Regions from separate parts of the Homo sapiens genome. Here region 2 is linked to region 1. A link means that fine-mapping ties the variant in region 1 to the plasma level of a protein whose gene starts in the linked region. Region 1 holds a variant in brackets. A gene starts in the other region. All regions are shown on their reverse strands. Region 1 overlaps NPHP3 (nephrocystin 3). Region 2 holds the start of CCL19 (C-C motif chemokine ligand 19).

What was found. A credible set is the group of variants that fine-mapping cannot tell apart. PIP is the posterior inclusion probability: the model's chance that the variant is causal. The UK Biobank Pharma Proteomics Project read protein levels with antibody pairs (Olink). The fine-mapping took linkage between variants from a reference panel, not from the people measured, so its PIPs are less certain.
Region 2: CCL19 starts here. The variant in region 1 is the best candidate, but not a certain one, in a credible set for the plasma level of the CCL19 protein (UK Biobank, PIP 0.61).

Annotation. Positions count from the first base shown.
Region 1 is chr3:132,689,355-132,696,520 of GRCh38, reverse strand. It overlaps NPHP3 (nephrocystin 3), which reads left to right. Exons shown (of 27, transcript NM_153240.5): 16 at 1,556-1,694; 17 at 3,703-3,867; 18 at 5,235-5,329; 19 at 5,871-5,993. NPHP3-ACAD11 (NPHP3-ACAD11 readthrough (NMD candidate)) reads left to right here. Exons shown (of 45, transcript NR_037804.1): 15 at 1,556-1,694; 16 at 3,703-3,867; 17 at 5,235-5,329; 18 at 5,871-5,993. Among named protein-coding and RNA genes, the nearest start is that of NPHP3-AS1, 29 kb to the left of the region's middle. RefSeq lists enhancers at 2,491-2,990, 2,991-3,492. The variant A/G (reference allele first, on the strand shown) is at 6,010.
Region 2 is chr9:34,686,259-34,697,734 of GRCh38, reverse strand. It overlaps CCL19 (C-C motif chemokine ligand 19), which reads left to right and starts at 6,459. Exons shown (of 4, transcript NM_006274.3): 1 at 6,459-6,644; 2 at 7,393-7,525; 3 at 7,712-7,805; 4 at 7,896-8,165. The coding sequence starts at 6,596. The coding sequence ends at 7,916. It also overlaps a transcript of PHF24 not described here.

The DNA.
Region 1 (7,166 bases):
TTCACACTAATCTGTTCCCTATTGGAGGTTGCAAAAGAAAGCCATCCTCACCCTCATTTGTGGCCCCTAGCTTTGGGAAAGTGAAGGAAACAACTGAGGGTTACAATATTATTTCAGGTATCTTTGAATATCAGGAGGTAGATATATGGATATGAATTTTTAATTGTCTCTGTTCTCAAGTCCTGATAAACTTTTTAATTATAAAAATAGTTCTATTTTAGATATCCATTAGTAATCTGCCTTTAGATAAGCATTAGAGTATCACTACTTTTATTTCCTCAGTATAGCTTTACCCTATTCTATCTATTCTCAACCGTTAGAATGTTTTACTACTTTTATTTCTTCTTCAGTATAGCATCACTCTACTTTGTCTTTTCTCAATCTGAGGTAAAAAAAAAAAAGATTAATACATTTTTTGTTATTCATTGCAATAGATGGCAATTCTAGCACACATATTTCCAGACACCGAATCTAGTACTTCTTGTCTCTTTATTCCATGTTCTCATCTTGAGAACCAAATTTGAAATAAAAAAATCTTCTGAAACTTTACATTGCCCATGATATTTCATCTTTGTTTTTGTTTTTGAGACAGTGTCTCACTCTCTGTTGCCCAGGCTGGAGAGCAGAGGCTTGATCTCGGCTCACTGTAACTTCTGCCTCCCAGACTCAAGCGATCCTCCCACCTCAGCCTCTTGAGTAGCTGGGACTACAAGAGCACACCACCATGCCTGGCTTATTTTTGTATTTTTAGTATAAGCGGGGTTTTGCCATGATTGCCAGGCTGGTCTTGAACTCCTGGGCTCAAGCAATCCACCTGCTTAGCCTCCCAAAGTGCTGGGATTACAGCATGTGAGCCACTGTACCCAGCCTGCCTGTGATATTTCCACTGTCCTTTTCCACTGTTAGTTGTAGCAACACATCTGGCCTCTGTGAACATCAGTGATACAATGAGTATGATTCAAGAGTGTGAGTAATTTTTCATACATTTAATAATGTTCATTGAAAGTATTTTACTGTTTTTATTTTTGAAAGTACCTATTTTAAAGAGACTATGGACCCTTTGTTTTTTCTCTTTGTACATCTTTATATTATTTTTAAAAACTGGTAAATATTGTGTAATCTTTTAAAACATACCCCCCTATTTAATGATTTTCTTTAGCCTTGTGTTTTCAAAATTCTGGCTCCACACAAATTTAATTTGCATGGCTAACTAACAATACTTATCATCGTTTCCCTGCTTCCTGTATGTAGGTGGCATGCTTCTGGATAATAAGAACCGTGTCTGACTCATTTTTATGTTCCATAATGCATAGTAATTGCTTAACAAATAATAGATTTCAGCATGTTTATTGCACTGAATTAAATTATATATAGTAAAATAAACCCAATGACTCTAGCAGCCCCATAAAACTACCACTTTCCTTTATCATGTTTTATTGAATTTGTTATTGGTTGCAGTACAAAAAATAGAGTTCACGTTGTTTTTAATCGATCTCAAAATTTTCACAGATGTTGGCAATCTGTAAGAAATTAAATCTCTTCTCGATTCCAACAGTGCTGGGAGAGCAGGCAATTTAGATAAAATCCTTCATCAGTGTTTCCAGTGTCAAGATACTCTTTCATTATATAGACTTGTTCTGCACTCTATCCGGGAGTCCATGGCAAATGATGTGGATAAAGAGCTAATGAAGCAGGTAGAATGTAATAAACTTATAAAAAGGAATGTTAGTTTGCTTTGTGTGTGTGTGAATGGAAATAAATAACAATTCTTTTAAAATTTGTGCTTAAATATGTTTCAGGCATATGCAGGAATGCTGATAGCCATAGTGTGCTTGTGGAAATTTGTGTTTACCTGATTATCATTGAGATTTATCATCTTTTCATGTTATTGGCTATCCTTTTTTTCTGAATTGCTGGTTCAGGTCTTTACCCATTTTTTAATTGGGTCATTTGTCTTTTCCTTATCGATCTGTAGGTGTCTTAAATGTTCTGCATACTGAAAACAAATCCTTTATTAGAAAATTTGCAAATAAATGTCTTTTTCCTGTTTGTTTCTTGTCTTTTAACTGTATGGTATCATTCATTATGTTTCATTCATTATACAAAGCTTTGTTTCATATATATATGTGTGTGTGTGTGTAAACACACACACACACACACACACATAATTTCCTTCAAAAAGTTTTATAGTTTTTTCTTCGTGTGTGAAGTCCTTAACTCTTGTTGATATCTTTTTGTTTATTGTGTGAGGAAGGATTCTATTTTTTAATCCTCTGTCATATGGATAATTAATTGTTCTTTTTACTAAATAATACATCTCTTCTGCTCATTTGCAATGCCAACTGACAAATATCAAGCTCACAAATAAATGTGGGTCTGTTTCTAGGCTCTTCTGTTCTGATTTTGCCTATTATTTGCCAGTACCATACTGCTTAGTTGTTAGAACTTTAAAGTAAGCTTTGGTAGTTACTTGGGTAAACCTCCTTTTATTATTATCCTTCACAATTGCCTTGTCTAATTTTCCATATATATATTTTTAGAATTAAGTGCTATGTAATTAAAATAACATTGTAGTTTTTTGTTGATGTATTCAATTTTGGTTTTTGAAAATATATATCTAGCAACCTCATTTTTTTTTTTTTTTTCCCGAGACAGAGTCTCGCCTTGTCGCCCAGGCTAGAGTGCGGTGGCGCGATCTCGGCTCACTGCAAGCTCCGCCTCCCGGGTTCAAGCAATTCTCCTGCCTCGGCCTCCCGAGTAGCTGGGACTACAGGCACCCACGACCACGCCCAGCTTATTTTTTGTATTTTTAGTAGAGATGGGGTTTCACCGTGATAGCCAGGATGGTCTCGATCTCCTGGCCTCGTGATCTGCCCACTTTGGCCTCCCAAAGTGCTGGAATTACAGGCGTGAGCCACTGCGCCCTGCCGAACCTGGATCTATTTTTATGTTAACTTTTCAGCTTGGTGGTTCCCAGGGTTTGGACTTCTCAGCCCACTCCAAGCCCACAAGCTTCCTCGTATTCTCTCCACGTCTGTGGGCTAATGTTTTTCTCATGCACCCCTTCACTGAGGGTGAAGGTCCTTCAAAGCCCTTCAAAGATCCTGGTGTTGACAAGAAATCTAATTCTACCTCCTTGCCTCACACAGCTTAAGGGCTCACCTTCCATCCCACTGTGGCTGTGAAAACCTGAGCTCTTACTGGGGGATGCTGCCTGTCCTCTAGCTCCACTGCCCCCATAGCCAGCAGTTCCAGCCCTTTACACTCTGACTTCAATTTCCTATTCATTTTTGGCAGTTGGAGGATTTCCCTTTATTTATCTAAAAACTGTGCTTTTAGAAATGTGTCTGATATTCATACGTGTTTATAATAGGAGGGCTATTTTCTTCCACTGTCTTCCTGGAATTGGAATTCTGCCATTAATTATAATAATACATTTTATGCAGTTTTAATTTTCACTGTACTTTTTTCTGTAAGAGTGTTATCTTTGGTGTGCTAGATTTTATATATACACTATCTTAATCTTCATTAATGTCTTTTGGACAGTGTGTTTTAATAAATCTGTTTCTTGATTTATTAAATCATTTGAATTATAAGTTTTGGTAAAAAGAAATAGCCTTAAAAGAATTATGGAACTTTTAATGGCCGTTAGTTACTTATACAGGTGCTTTATGATTACTGTTAATTTGTTTTTCTACCTAGATCCTCTGCCTTGTCAATGTTAGTCACAATGGTGTGAGTGAATCAGAACTGATGGAACTCTATCCTGAGATGTCCTGGACTTTCTTGACCTCCCTTATTCACAGTTTATACAAAATGTGTTTGTTGACTTATGGATGTGGCTTGCTTAGGTTTCAACATCTGCAGGTAATGTTATTTTAGGCATCTTTTTATTTATTTATTTAAGAAACAGGGTCTTCTCTGTCACCCAGGCTGGAGTGCAGTGGCAAGATTATTTCTGCCAAAGGAATAAATTCTAAAGATCTGCTATACAACATTGTCCCTATAGTTAACAATACTGTAGTACACTTAAAAATTTATTAAGAGGGTAGATCTCACGTTAAGTGGTCTTACCACAATACAATTTTTAAAATTAAAAAATAAGTCAGACACAAAAGATCAAAAAAAGTTTCTTAAAGGTAGTTTATTTCTTGAAGAGAAAAAAAGTCTTTTTCAATTATGTTTCATTGAATTGCGGTATTATTATACAGTCATGCATTGCTTAACAATGGGGATATGTTCTGAGAAACACATCATTAGGTGATTGTATCATTGTGTGAGCATTGTAGAGCGTACTTACACAAATCTAGATGGTACAGCCTACCACACATGGAGGCTATATGGTATGGCCTATTGCTCCCAGGCTACAAACCTGCACAGCATATTACTGTACTGAATACTGTGTGTAACTGTAAGTATTTGTGTATCTAAATACAGAAAAGTTACAGTAAAAATGTGGTATGAAAGTTTTAAAACGGTATGCCTGTATAGGGCAGCTTCATTATAATTTTATAGGATCATCATCATGTATGCAGTTTGTTGTTGACCAAAACATTGTTATGTGCACATGACTGTATATGTATTAAGAGTTTGGACTCTGTAAGCCAGTCAGCCTCCTTTTCATGGATTAATGCCTATCTAAACTTGGGCAAGATCTAAGCCCCAGGCGGACTTTGGCAGTTTATGAAAGGGGTTGTGAAGCAAATTAATTGAGGTCGTTCTTGGTCCTTGTGAGGTACTAGAAAGATGTTTAGCACATAGAAGTAAATCTTTAGGAAGTTTTGGCTAAAATAATTCCTATCATCTGCAATGCCATGGTTGATTTATATATATATACAATTGTAAATGAAGTCTTACATTTGAGTATGCTGTATCATATTTGTAGATGTGAAATGTTTGCAATTTCACAGCCTTTTTCCTTTCTTTATTGTGTATTGTTTGAATATAATTTATTCTTTTTAGTAACTTTTCATTCCACACTTCTGAGATTTTTAATGTATTAACTAAAGTTTGAATTAAATTGTGTTTTGAGCTTATAAATATTAGTACAGAAATTTTTATTCTAGTAACAGTTTATCAAATAAATATGTCCTAAATTTAAAAACATTTAAGTGACATTTCTATTATACAGCTATAAAATAGGAATAATTATAAATTCTTTTTTGCAAATCTCTTGTTAGATGTACAGTGACTTACGTGAAATAGAACTCAGTATTTCTTCTTTTTCTCCCTAGGCTTGGGAAACAGTGAGATTGGAGTACCTGGAAGGCCCCACTGTTACTTCTTCATACAGGCAAAAGCTAATCAACTATTTCACCTTGCAGCTAAGGTATTGTAAATGTTCCTGTTGTTCTTCTGTAACTTCTGCAACACACTACCTTTGTGTCCTTATTTCTGTTTCTTAGCTTACAACTTAAAGTACAAAAACTTAATTATTACAAAAAAGATTAAATCCTCTCCCTATTCTGTTAATGTCAAAAGAGCAAAAGATGATTTTGTCTTTTAATATTATGCTAAAAGTTTAAACAAGGAAAATCAATGTAGGATCATTTTATTATTTTTATTTTATTCCAATAGTTTGTGTCCATGTATCTGTATGTGTATATACGGGTCCATTGAGTGTTTTTTTAAATAGTTCAATTTTAGGAAAATACTTTTAGAGTTTGGTTGATGGTTCTGCATATCACTGAATTTATTTTCTTAGATTGGTAAAGTCTCTGATTTTGACCTAACTTTTTTAGTATTAAATTATACTTAAAGAATCAGAGATATATGTTAAATATTTTTCTTCCTTTGACATTTGCCTGAAGCCTTTTTGAAGCAGTCTCATTGTAGGAAGATATTGAATATTGTCTCCTCTCTTTTGATAGTCAGGACAGAGTGACTTGGAGAAGTGCAGATGAACTCCCGTGGCTTTTTCAGCAGCAGGGAAGTAAACAGAAGCTGCATGATTGCCTTCTTAATCTCTTTGTGTCTCAAAACCTTTATAAAAGGTAAGAAACATTATAG[A/G]ACATCTTTCCCCAGAAAGAGAGATTTAAAGTTGTTCAGTTTAACAAAGAAAAAATGGTATTTTTAATTTAAAAATTAGTCTAAGTATCTGAAATACAAATAGTGTAGGAGAAATCTTGAGACAATTTACAAATCTCTATTAGATCTGCTTTTCCCAAGAGGAAAACATAGAGTACTGCTGCTTTATGAAATCAGAGCTGGAATGATTTCGGTTCAACTTTTTATCTTATGCTTACATTTAAGCATGTCTAAATTTAAACCACTCAGAGAGGTGGTTCGTAATGTCTGCTTCTTTGGGCCTTCAGATATCTGAAAGCGTAGCCTTCAAACCAGACTCGGGTCCAAGTAGAATCTGTCTGGTGTTGAATTTATTTGTTTTTGTTTGTTTGTTTACTTTCTATGTCTGGTGTTGAATTTAAAGAAAGAATTACCCTAATTCAAAAATGTATTCTGTTTGTCTCTTTTGATATGTTATAGTTTGTCAGTGGCAGAACTACCTTTTTATGAGGCAACTGTCTAACCTACTAAGCTTCATGAGGGTTTTTTTCTGCCTTACTTAGAGATTTAGACATTTCTTATACAATAAGTATCATAATTTATTTTGCTCCTACATAAACTCTCTCAAATTTGTTGCATCTCTTATTTCTGATCTCCATTCCAATTTTTCATGATTCCTTTGAAATCAGATATTTTTTAGTTTACCAGCCCCATACTACTTAAGATCGCCTACAGATGAATAAGCTTACTTTTGTCATTCAATTTCTTGATGAAAATACAAAGTAGATACTCTGTGACAGTTTATTTTTTATTAGTTTCTTCTCTTTGAATTTCCATACTTAAAATAATTTTGGGAGTGAACTCAGTGGTTGGCTCCATATTGTGAAATGTGTAAAAAGGATTCAGATAGATTCCCATTGGTAAGTAGCCATGATGGTATTAAGGATAACAGCCAACACCGTGGAGTACTTACTGTGTGCCATAATCCCCCTACAGTACCAGCTGAGGCAGGTAGTGTCTCCATTTCTGCAGATGAAGGTGATGAGGTCTAAGAGGTCAGATAACCTGCTCAAGATTACATAGCTAGGATAGTGGTGGAATTCAGATAGTGAGTGGTCTGAGTCTTACCTCATTACACAGTACTCGCCTACTAATAAATT
Region 2 (11,476 bases), not on the chromosome of region 1:
ATAGGTAATTTCAACATTTATTTCTAACCTTTGAACCTCTTCCTCTACTTTACTATTCAAGGTATAGTCCAAGGACCACAGCATCAGCATCATTTAAAAGTTTGTGAAACGTGAAGGCTGGGTGCGGTGGCTCAGGCCTGTAATCCCAGTACTTTGGGAGGCCGAGGCAGGTGGATCGGCTGAGGTCAGGAGTTCAAGACCAGCCTGGCCAACATGATGAAACCCCATCTCTACTAAAAATACAAAAGTCAGCCGGGCATGATGGTATGTGCCTGTAATCCCAGCTACTTGGGAGGCTGAGGCAAGAGAATCGCTTGAACCCAGGAGGTGGAGGTTGCAGTGAGCAGAGATCGTGCCATTGCACTCCAGCCTGGGTGACAGAGCAAGACTCCACCTCAAAAAAAAAAATTTGTGAATGTGAAACATGAAACATCCTGGGCTTCACTACAGACCTACTGAATAGAATCTACAGTTTAATAAGATTCTCCTAGGTGAATCATGCACACATTAAAGTTTGAGGAGTTCTACAACAGGCCAGCGAGGTTCTAGCACCTCAGCCTCACTGATCACAGGCCACTGTCAAATCCAGGCTTCCAGGAATCAACCCAACAGAATATTAACACAACTCCCAGGTGCTCAGCTAATATTAACACAATGATACCCAAATCCTACATGAGAACACCTATATCAATAAATTTGTCCTCACTGGTTCCTGGGATTCTCCCAGGACAAGTTGACAAGTTCCTGCAAATTTCCCAGCACCTACGCTCTTGCTCTTGGAGCATATCCTGTACTTTCCTGTCCAGACAATGTTAGGATTAAACTTGCTACGGGCCTGGAGACTCTGAGGGCTGGTCAGGGTGGGTCCTGAGGGAAAAAGGCATGCCTTTTGCCAGAGAGTTATTATCTAACGGAAGGGAAGGTTGGATCCTTCATGGTTTACAGGGGAAGGGGGAATTATCCTCTGCCACCAAGGAAGATTCAGGGGGATTTGAAGGTCCAAAGTTCTCAGCTTTGTTCATCTCTGCTCAAATGTCACCATTCCAAGTTTCAGAGTCCTATGCCTTCCCAACAGTGCCTTTATTCCAGGATAAGGGCATCATCACTCATACATGAATCCAAGACACTCGGGTCTTGGATCTGATCCTCAGCCATATCTGTCATGTGGCCACATACAATAAACATTCCTTAAGACTTCCATTTGAGTTAGAAGTTCCTGGTCTAAACTTTTTTTTTTTTTTTTTTTTTGAGATGGAGTCTTGCTCTGTCGCCAGCCTGGAGTGCAATGGCATGATCTCTGCACACCGCAACTTCTGTCTCCCGGGTTAAAGCGATTCTCCTGCCTCAGCCCCCTGAGTAGCTGGGATTACAGGCACTCGCCAGCGTGCCTGGCTAATTTTTGTATTTTTAGTAGAGACAGGGTTTCGCCATGTTGGTCAAGCTGGTCTCAAACTCCTGACCTCAAGTGATCTGCCCCCCACAGCCTCCCAAAATGTTGGGATTACAGGCGTGAGCCACTGTGCCTGGCCTAACCTTATCTTTTTTATTGGAATTTTACTAGCACAATCAGAAATGGCCAGTGAGGTTCTGGCCTCAATATAGTACTATAGTAACAATATAGTAATCACCATTTGCAATCATCATTTGTGACCATAGTAAGTAAGTGCCTCAGGTACTTTATCTCCTAATGTCTTGACTTCCAACATTTCATCCATGCCTCACGAGTGATAGTCTAAGTGACTGTGATGCTTCTACGTGCTCCAGATTACTTGTGTCTTCTTTTTCCAACCACAGAGACCATCCATGCCCTCATCAAGGGCAAGCCAATCCTAGAATCCCATTTTGGGAATCTATGTCCTGGTACTGCCAATTATATCAGTGAGGACCCTGGCAGGAAACAGATAGCACACTCCAAGGATACAGGGAAAACCATGTTTCCCTACTCTCTACTCCCTCTCACCACTCAATACTTCTGTGACCTCTGGGTACCCATAAGTGTGTGGGGATTTCTCCCCACCAAGAAATTATCTGGCAGACAGTTCCTCAGTGGACACCAGATGGGTGTCCCCTAATTCAGTTCAATTCTGACATCATTTACCTGGAGGTAGCATCAGATCCCACAAGTTGAGGGTTCAGTTCCACAAGACTGCCCCCCTACTTCAGATACCAATTGCAAGCACAGAGTGTGGCCTATGCTTCTGACTGACCAGCTATAAATAAGGGTTTCCACAACCCACCTGGGGTTCAATTAATTTGCTACAGCGGCTCACAGAAGTCAGAGAAACACTTACTTATGCTTACCCATTTATTATAAAGGATATTACAAAGAACAGATAAACAGCCAGATGAAAGGGATGCATAGAGTGAGGTATGGGGAAAAAAAGGTGTGGAGCTTTCATGCCCTCTCTGGGCACCCTCCTCCAGAACCTCCATGTTTTCAGCTATCCAGAAGCCCCCACCCCAACTTAGTCCTTTCGGGTTTTTAATGGAAGTATCAGTACCTAGGTATAATTGATTACATCATCAGCCATTGGTTTATCAACTCAAGTTTCAACCCCTCTTCCCCTACCCAGAGGTGGGGAGTGGGTGGGACTCCCCACCACTACAGAATGTTAGAGAATGTTCCAACTCTCTAACCATGTGGCTGGTTCTTCTGCTGACTAGCTCCCATCCAGAGGCTGTCTAGAGGCCCCCAGCCACCAGTTATCTCATTAGCATACAAAAGACACAATCTCTCCCAAGATTCCAAGGATTTTAGGAGCTATATGTCAGAAAAGGAAGATGAAGACCAGATATATATTTCACAATATCACATACACTCAAAAAAAATTTAACTGGAAAGATTTTAATAAAGGGACAATTTAAGAGATTAGGTCAGGATTAAGGAACTAACATGGGATGATAGGCAGTTGGGGTCTAGCAATGGTGAGAAACCATTATCATACAAAGGCTTGAAGGGGCAAGAGGAGGGAACAGTGTTTCCAAAGCCTGTCATCCCAGCACTTTGGGAGGCCGAGGCGGGTGGATCACCTGAGGTCAGGAATTTGAGACCAGACTGGCCAACATGGTGAAATCTCATCTGTATTAAAAGTACAAAAATTAGGCCGGGCATGGTGGCTCACGCCTGTAATCCCTGCACTTTGGGAGGCCAAAGCAGGTGGATCACCTGAGGTCAGGAGTTCAAGACCAGCCTGGCCAACATGATGAAACCCCATCTCTACTAAAAATACAAAAAACTTAGCTGGGTGTGGTGGCGGGTCCCTGTAATCCCAGCTACTCAGGAGGCTGAGGCAGCAGAATCGCTTGAACCCAGGAGGCGGAGGTTGCAGTGAGCTGAGATTGTGCCATTGCACTCCAGCCTGGGTGACAAGGGTGAAACTCCATCTCAAAAAAAAAAATTAGCCAAGCGTGGTGGTGCGTGCCTCTAATCCCAGCTACTCGGGTGGCTGAGGCAAGAGAATTACTTGAACATAGGAGGCAGAGGCTGCAGTTAGCTGAGACTGTGCCACTGCACTAGAGCCTGGGTGACATATTGAGACTCTGTATCAAAAAAAAAAAAAAAAAAAAAAAAAAAAGAATAGAGATAGACCCGTGGAAGGGAGGCAACCCAAAAGGATCACTGTAGATCAGTGGGCCTCAATCTGTAGACCACTTTGGGAGGCCAAGGTGAGCCTTGGGATTCTCCTGCCTCAGCCTCCTGAGTAGCTGAGTAGTCAGGAGTTGAGATGGGGTTTCACCATGTTGGCCAGGCTTGTCTCAAACTCCTGTTCTGGATAAACAAAACTTAGGAAGTTCATTAATAGTACATCTGCCCATAAGAAAAGCTAAAGGGAGAAAGAAAAAACAAAAAACAAACAAAGAAATGCTAAAGGGAGACCTTCAGAATGAAACAAAAGGACAAAAAGTAATAACTTACAGCCACACAAAGAAACAAAGATCTCTGATAAACATAACAACATAGCAGGCCAGGCGTAATGAACTTCTTGGATATGTATATACATACTTTTCATCAGATTTCAGATGTTTTGTCATTATTTCTTCAATTTTTTTAATGCCCTGTTCTCTCTATTCTCCTCCTGAGACTCCTGTGATGAGGTATATTTGATGGTATCCCTGAGGCTCGTTTGGATCTCAAACTTTAGCACATATCAGAGTCACTTGGAGGGTATGTGAAAATGCAGTTTGCTGGACCCCATCCTCAGAGTCTCAGATGTGGTAAGTGGGAAGTAAAATCTAAGAATTCGTGTTTCTAACAAGCTCCCAAGTGATGCTGCTGCTGCTGCCCAAAGGCTACTCTTTGAGAACAACTGCCACAGGGGAAATTATTCACTGCCAGAACTGCAGCAAGATGAAGGATTTGGGGAATTAATACCCCTCTCTCCTTCCACCACTGATCAGTTGCTGCTTCCCATGGGCCAGCCCCAAACAGAAGCCAGAAAGCAGGTGACCCTAAGTAATGCTATCTGCAGAGGTCAGCCTTCCAGGGAGCAGAGCAGGGCCGTGAAGAGTGGAGAATGGATAGGCTGGGGCAAACAGAATAACCAGAACCATCATGGACAGAAGAATGGATAGATCAATGGAAAGAGGGGTGGATGGATGAATTAATGAACAGATACCTGAATAAAAGGATAGAAGGCCAGGCACGGTGGCTCACGCCTGTAATCCCAACACTTTGGGAAGCGGAGGCAAGCAGATCATTTGAAGTCAGGAGTTCGAAACCAGGAGTTCGAAACCAGCCTAGCCAACAAGGTGAAACCTCACCTCTACTAAAAATACCAAATTTAGCCGGGCATGATGGTGGGTGCCTGTAATCCCAGCTACTCAGGAGGCTGAGGCAGGAGAATCCCTTGAGCCCAGGAGGTGGAGGTTGCTCTGAGCCAAGATCGTGCCATTGTACTCCAGCCTGGGTGACAGAGTGAGACTCTGTCTCAAAAAAAAAAAAAAAAAAAGGACAAAAGAAGAACAATGGCTAACAGAGCTTATTGTGCGTCAGCCTCTAAGCTAAGGGCTTTACTCAGGGTTCCTCACTTAATCCTAAGAAGTAGATCTTCTACCATTCCCATTTTACAAATAAGGACACTAAGACACAGAAACTGGAGAATTTTCACCTTGTCGCAGTTAGTAAGTGGTGGAATCTGAATCCCAAGCTAGGCGCTCTGTCTGCAGAGTCTCCCTCCTCTGCACCGTGACTACCCGTGCTGTGCCATGACCAAGTGGCAGACAGGCGGTGTGGAGTGGAGGTAAAGACTGCAAACCCTAGAGCACACCTGGGTCCAAATCATGCTCCAGTACTTACTAGCTGTGTGGCTTTGTGCTCTGAGCCTCATGTTCCTTATGTGTAAAATAAGAATAATAATGTGAAAATAAGAAAAACTACATCAATGGTATTGTTTTGGGAAAGTTAAGCAAGGTAATAGTGGTAAAGTCCTTGACATAGAGCCTAGCACATAGTAAACAATCAAAAATACCATTACTATTATTATGATTAATGAATGGAAAGAAGCTAAGTCAGAAATTTAAGAGGGAAATGTTCCCCCTCCCTCTCTCCATCCAAAAGAGGGTCTAGGGTTTGGGTGACGACGGGTGACTGGGCGTTTCACATTTAGTTTCTCTTTCAAGGCCTTCTCTTCTGACCTTTCTCATAAGGATGGGAAGTCACTTGTCCCCTCCCCCATCGGCCGATTCCTTGAAATTTTAAGATTTGTCTGAATATGAGCTGGCCAGCCCCTCTCCTTAGAAATCCCCTCTTGGTTCCCAGGACTGAGAAAAGGGGGAAAATGAAGGGGGCTATTCCAAGCCAGTCTCCCTCCAGCTGTTCCTTTGACCCAGGTGTTGGACATAGGAAAACAGTAAATAGAGGAAGGGGAGGGTTTGCTGAGCCCCAGAGGCCTGAGATGTGGGATGGGGGTCCTGGGCCTCCTCCCAAGGTACCTGGCCTTTCAGCTCTGCTTGCCCCAAGGGAAGGACTGGTTCCCACATAGTGGGCAGGCACAGTGATGACCTTGGAGGCCACCCCAGGATCTCATGGTTGTCCTGAGGGTGCCAGGGAGCCTTCTTCACCACCAGCCCAAGAAAGAAGCACCAGTGAGGACAAGGGATAAACCTAAGGAAGGGAGCACAGTTCCTCACTGTGGGCCCCACCTTTGACCATCACTTCTGAACCCCAGCTTCATGGTTGATGATGCAAATGCCATCAATGGGATGACAGGGCAATCCCTCTCTCTGGAGAAACAGTGCACAGCCCCCTTTACTGGGCCAGACTGCAGACTTAAGTTCTCAGAGCAGGAGCCAAGGAAAGCAGAAGGAAAGGGCAACCGCAGGGGGAAGAAGGGGGGCAGGGTGCGATTCTGCCAGAAAGAGGGGGGCAACAGGGGAATCACAGAATGGGACATGAAGGGGAATTTCAGGCAGAGAAAGTGAAGCTCTGGCCATAAATAGGAGTCAGCTGCAGGGCTCACATTCCCAGCCTCACATCACTCACACCTTGCATTTCACCCCTGCATCCCAGTCGCCCTGCAGCCTCACACAGATCCTGCACACACCCAGACAGCTGGCGCTCACACATTCACCGTTGGCCTGCCTCTGTTCACCCTCCATGGCCCTGCTACTGGCCCTCAGCCTGCTGGTTCTCTGGACTTCCCCAGGTAAGGCTGAAGGGAGAGTCAGGGTCAGAGGCAGTGGGGGGCTGGCAGTGGGTAATGTCTAGATCTCAGATTGCTTGGCACTGGACGTAAGGGACATGGTGAGTTCAGGCAAATGCTTAGGTCTGTATATTTCGGTGAGCCTGGCAGGTCCCTGCATGTGTGCCTGTAAGTGTGGGTGTCCCTGTGCCCCTGAATCCCAATGCGGGTGTGTCTTTTAGCACATCCTGGGGCCTATGGCTGTGACTGTCTCTGCAAGCTCTATTTCCTGCTGCCTCCGTTTCCCAGGCAGAAGGAGATTTGCTTAAGGTAGGGAGAATGGCAGACACTAAGCCAAGGCTGATATTCAAAAATTTTAGCAATTAATAAGGCTCCTAACACCAGCCTACCCTACCCCACGCCCCTCCCACACTGTGACCTGCATTAACTCTTTACTTGCTGGATTGTCCTGGGAGAGAGGTTGGGGTGATCAGGGCAGCAGGAAGTCATTTGTGGGGCTCAGGGCAGTGGTTATTTACAAAACAGTTTAGAAGTATGACAATATATTTAGCAACCAGTAGAGCCAGAGCCATATTGGTGCATAATGGCTGAATACCAGGTCTAACTCCTCCCCGACCCCACCAGACACACACACACACACACACACACACACACACACACACACACACAGGTGTCCTCAATCCGAGCTAGGGCCATGGCCATGCCACCCTCAAGGGTCCCTGTGTCCTGTCACCTTCTTTCCCCATCCCAGCCCCAACTCTGAGTGGCACCAATGATGCTGAAGACTGCTGCCTGTCTGTGACCCAGAAACCCATCCCTGGGTACATCGTGAGGAACTTCCACTACCTTCTCATCAAGGATGGCTGCAGGGTGCCTGCTGTAGTGTGAGTTGTGGGGAGGGTGTCTAGCCTCATCTCCCGTTTTAGCCCCTGTTGAGACTCCCACCTTCTTATTCCCCTTCTCCATGCCAAGCCCAACCCCTTCAAGGAAATCCCTGAAACAGGTTCCCAGACATGGTCCCCAGGCATGCTGGATTCTGGGGCTCCATTCTCTCCGGCCTCTCACCCCAGGTTCACCACACTGAGGGGCCGCCAGCTCTGTGCACCCCCAGACCAGCCCTGGGTAGAACGCATCATCCAGAGACTGCAGAGGACCTCAGCCAAGGCAAGCCTGGCCCTCCCTGGCCCTGTCTCCTCCCTCTGAGCTCCTGTCTAAGATTCCAGCCCATGATCCTTCCTCTCCTTCCTCCTCTAGATGAAGCGCCGCAGCAGTTAACCTATGACCGTGCAGAGGGAGCCCGGAGTCCGAGTCAAGCATTGTGAATTATTACCTAACCTGGGGAACCGAGGACCAGAAGGAAGGACCAGGCTTCCAGCTCCTCTGCACCAGACCTGACCAGCCAGGACAGGGCCTGGGGTGTGTGTGAGTGTGAGTGTGAGCGAGAGGGTGAGTGTGGTCAGAGTAAAGCTGCTCCACCCCCAGATTGCAATGCTACCAATAAAGCCGCCTGGTGTTTACAACTAATTGATCACAACCTGTTACAGATTTCTTTGTTCTTTCTCCACTCCTACTGCTTAACTAGCCTTAAAAAAAAAAAAAAAGGCACCTGGCACCCATAGATCTGTCTGCTGTCCGTTTGCTGTCTAGCCAGGTGGACAGGAATAGGAAGGGGGAGGTGGAATGGCAGGATCTATTTTCTCTTCTGTGGCCTAGGGGGTCTCCTTGCTCACCTCCACTTAACAACCTGATGCTCTCAGGATCAGCCTCATTGCTTTCCATAGTTCAGCGACACTAAGCTTGGGTCAGTTCCCTGAATGAGCCAGCGTCTCATGCCTCCCACTCTTTGCTCTCCAAGGCAGGTGTTCAAGCATCCAGGTGTCTAAGGAATCCAGTGTCACTGGGGGGAAGGGAGTTGTGGGGAACCAGCTCTCACGGCTGGGGGAGGTGGAGTGGGGCAAAGGGCCCAGCTCTACTGCCTGGGGGAAAATACCCATCCACCCATGCCCTTCCCTTGGTCTGGCACACTCTTCTCTCTCCTCTGCCCACCTGGCTTCCCATCTGGGTCCAGACGCCTCTTCCTCCAGGAAGCCTTCCCTGACCCCAGGCTGGGTTAGGTAGCCTCCTGCAGTGGCCCCTCACAGCATTCATCACCCTGACTTATAGTTGCTGGTTTGTCCAAATTTGTCCATGTTCTTGGACTGGGATCACATCTATTTTGGGTTCCACTGTTTTTGTGGTGTCCAGCATGCTGCTTGGCACAAGGCAGTCCCTCAATAAATATTTGTTTAGAGAATGAATAAATATGTGAGGAAAGGCTCAGCAGCCAGGGCTGAGGGTCCATCTGTTCATTCTGTCCATACAGAATCTGACCTCCAGGCCAGCCTTCCTCTCTCAGCCAAACTGAGCAAGGTCCAGCCCCATCTTTGCAATCCTGGGGCCATGCCTCTCAGGGACACCGACAGACAGACCTGGGAGTCAGAGGTCAGAGACAGGAGAGAGGCCCACGGGGTGGAAGAAGGAGTAGCCAGGGAAGCACAGGAGATTCCACATAGAGGAGCCCTACCACCACCCCTACAGTCTACATGGGCTCCAGGGCTCAAAGGCAACACTGAGACCAGAGACATCTCCCCAGATGAGACCAGAAAGGAATCTCAGCTCTGGGAGATGAGAGCCGTGTGACTCTTGGAGCATCCCACAGGGCTTCTCTGTACAGAGTGAGTGCCTCGTACTTGAGAAGTCTCCTGGGGAAGCAGGCTAGCCTCCAGACAGTGTTCTCTAAGGGCCTCTCCAGCTGGGAGTGACAAGGCTGTGCCACTGGGGTCAGATGACAGCAAGGAGGCCAGATTGAGCACCCTTGCTTGGGAAGAGAGGTGTCATTATATCGGGTATACGTCAGCCAGCAACAAAACCAGGCCTGGGCAGGCCTTGAAAAGGGAGAAATGGTGAGGGAGTTGTGAAAGCCCCTCCTCACTGAGAGCATGACATCCTCTTCCTCTCCTCTGCTCCCAGATGCAGGTGCTCAAAACCTTGGGTATCCCAGGTCTCAGAATCACCTGGAATACCAGGTGGGTGGGAGGGATAGGGATAGTTTTCAAGAAAAGCTGCAATAACCCATCCATTCATGCATCCATGCATCCATTCATTCAGCTGTTTCTGCATTCATCAGACCTCCATCCAGCCAACTGTCCACTCACGCACTTCCCACCCAGCCATTCTTTCATCCATCCACCAAGCCAGCCAGCCATGGCGTTCTAGGTCTCCCAGCTGTGGACCCCGTGCCCCGCATCCCAGCAGGCTGGTGTCTCAGAGGACAAACACACATGGGAGGGGAGCACATTGCCTGAAATCCTTCTCAGTGCCAGTGACATTTAGAGGAAGTCAGCCTGCCACAGAAGCAACAAAAGTGATCTTTCTGGACTATCGGAGGAACACACAGACGGAGCAGGGCAGGTGAGAGTGGGAACCTTGAAGAAGATGCTACCAGGATAGGGGCCCCTGGACGCTACCTCCATGACACTGCCGCCAGGAGGTACAGAGCAAATCCTGAATTCACTGCCTGGGCCAGAGTCCCATGATCCTGTCTCTGCCCCACTCATTGTGTGACTCTGGGCAAGTTCCTTTTCCACTCTGCACCCGGAGATCCAGTTTCCCCATTTGTCAGATGGGAGAGAGGAGCTTGATTTTTGAGACTCCTTCCAAACAAAGACTTGGCTCCTGAATCTTTGGTTCTCATGCTAAACCGCCAGCATTTGCATAGACACCCCACAAAGTCTTGCACATACAGAAAACTCTCCCTGGGGCCACCCTCTGAGATCAAAGGAGATGCTGAGGCTCATAAAAAGAGAAAATAATCTAGGAGCTAGTGAAGTGCCTTGGATTCAATTGACCCTGGAAGCCTGGGAAATGAAGAACTTGGAGGAAATCTGAAGGGGTGGACACCAGAGTCCCAGGGGAGCTGGCATGCAACCCTCCCCACCCCTTCTACAGCCAATGCTTTCCATCCTAGCTTTCTGCCTTCCTCTTTTTCCCACCCCCCAACCATACCAACCCATCCTGGGCACTGGGTCTTACCCCCTTATCTCCCTGCCAGGTACAATTGCCCAGCAATCTGAGCAATTGGAGCAACTGAGCATCCTGCCCCACTCTAACATTCTCAGCACTGTGACTACATTTAATCAACATCTGCTTCCTCTTTCACGGTGAGTCACTGACAATTGTTGCATTTTCATTTATCCAGAGTTCTGGTGGGCCAGGAGCCCACCAGAGATTGTCAGATCTCTGAGGAGTGGTGTGGACTCCTAGCTTCCCAGTTAGGATGTGGAGGCCTTGTTGCCTGCCTATAGATAGACACCTTCTTCTCTAGCGCACATGGCATCTGTTACAGGTTCAAGGCCTGCAGCTGGGTGATACCTCCCATCCTAAAGGCCAATATCTCAGCAGCCAATATCTCCCTAAAAGTATCTGACATCCCTTCTCAGGTTGCTCTTAGCCTTTGGGGGATGAAAATCTCCCTTTCCTATTTGTTGAGGGAGCTCCCAAGGGAGAGGTTGGGCCTCATCCAACTCCATTGCTAACATTGCTCTGCCAGGGTCTGGCATGAAATAAGCCCCAATACACATATGATTAACAAAAATGGAACTGAACATGGCCTTTTCCCACCATGCCCCGCCCCCCACCAGGAGCACATCCAGTTCTCAAGACAGCTGGGGCTATCTCTGTTGTGTGGTTGAGCGTTTGTTCAGAGCCAGCTTCATACGGTTTTGATCATCTCATATTCAACTTCTCGGCAGGCAAGCTCCATGTCACTCCCTCCTTCTAGGCTACGGGAAACTCAG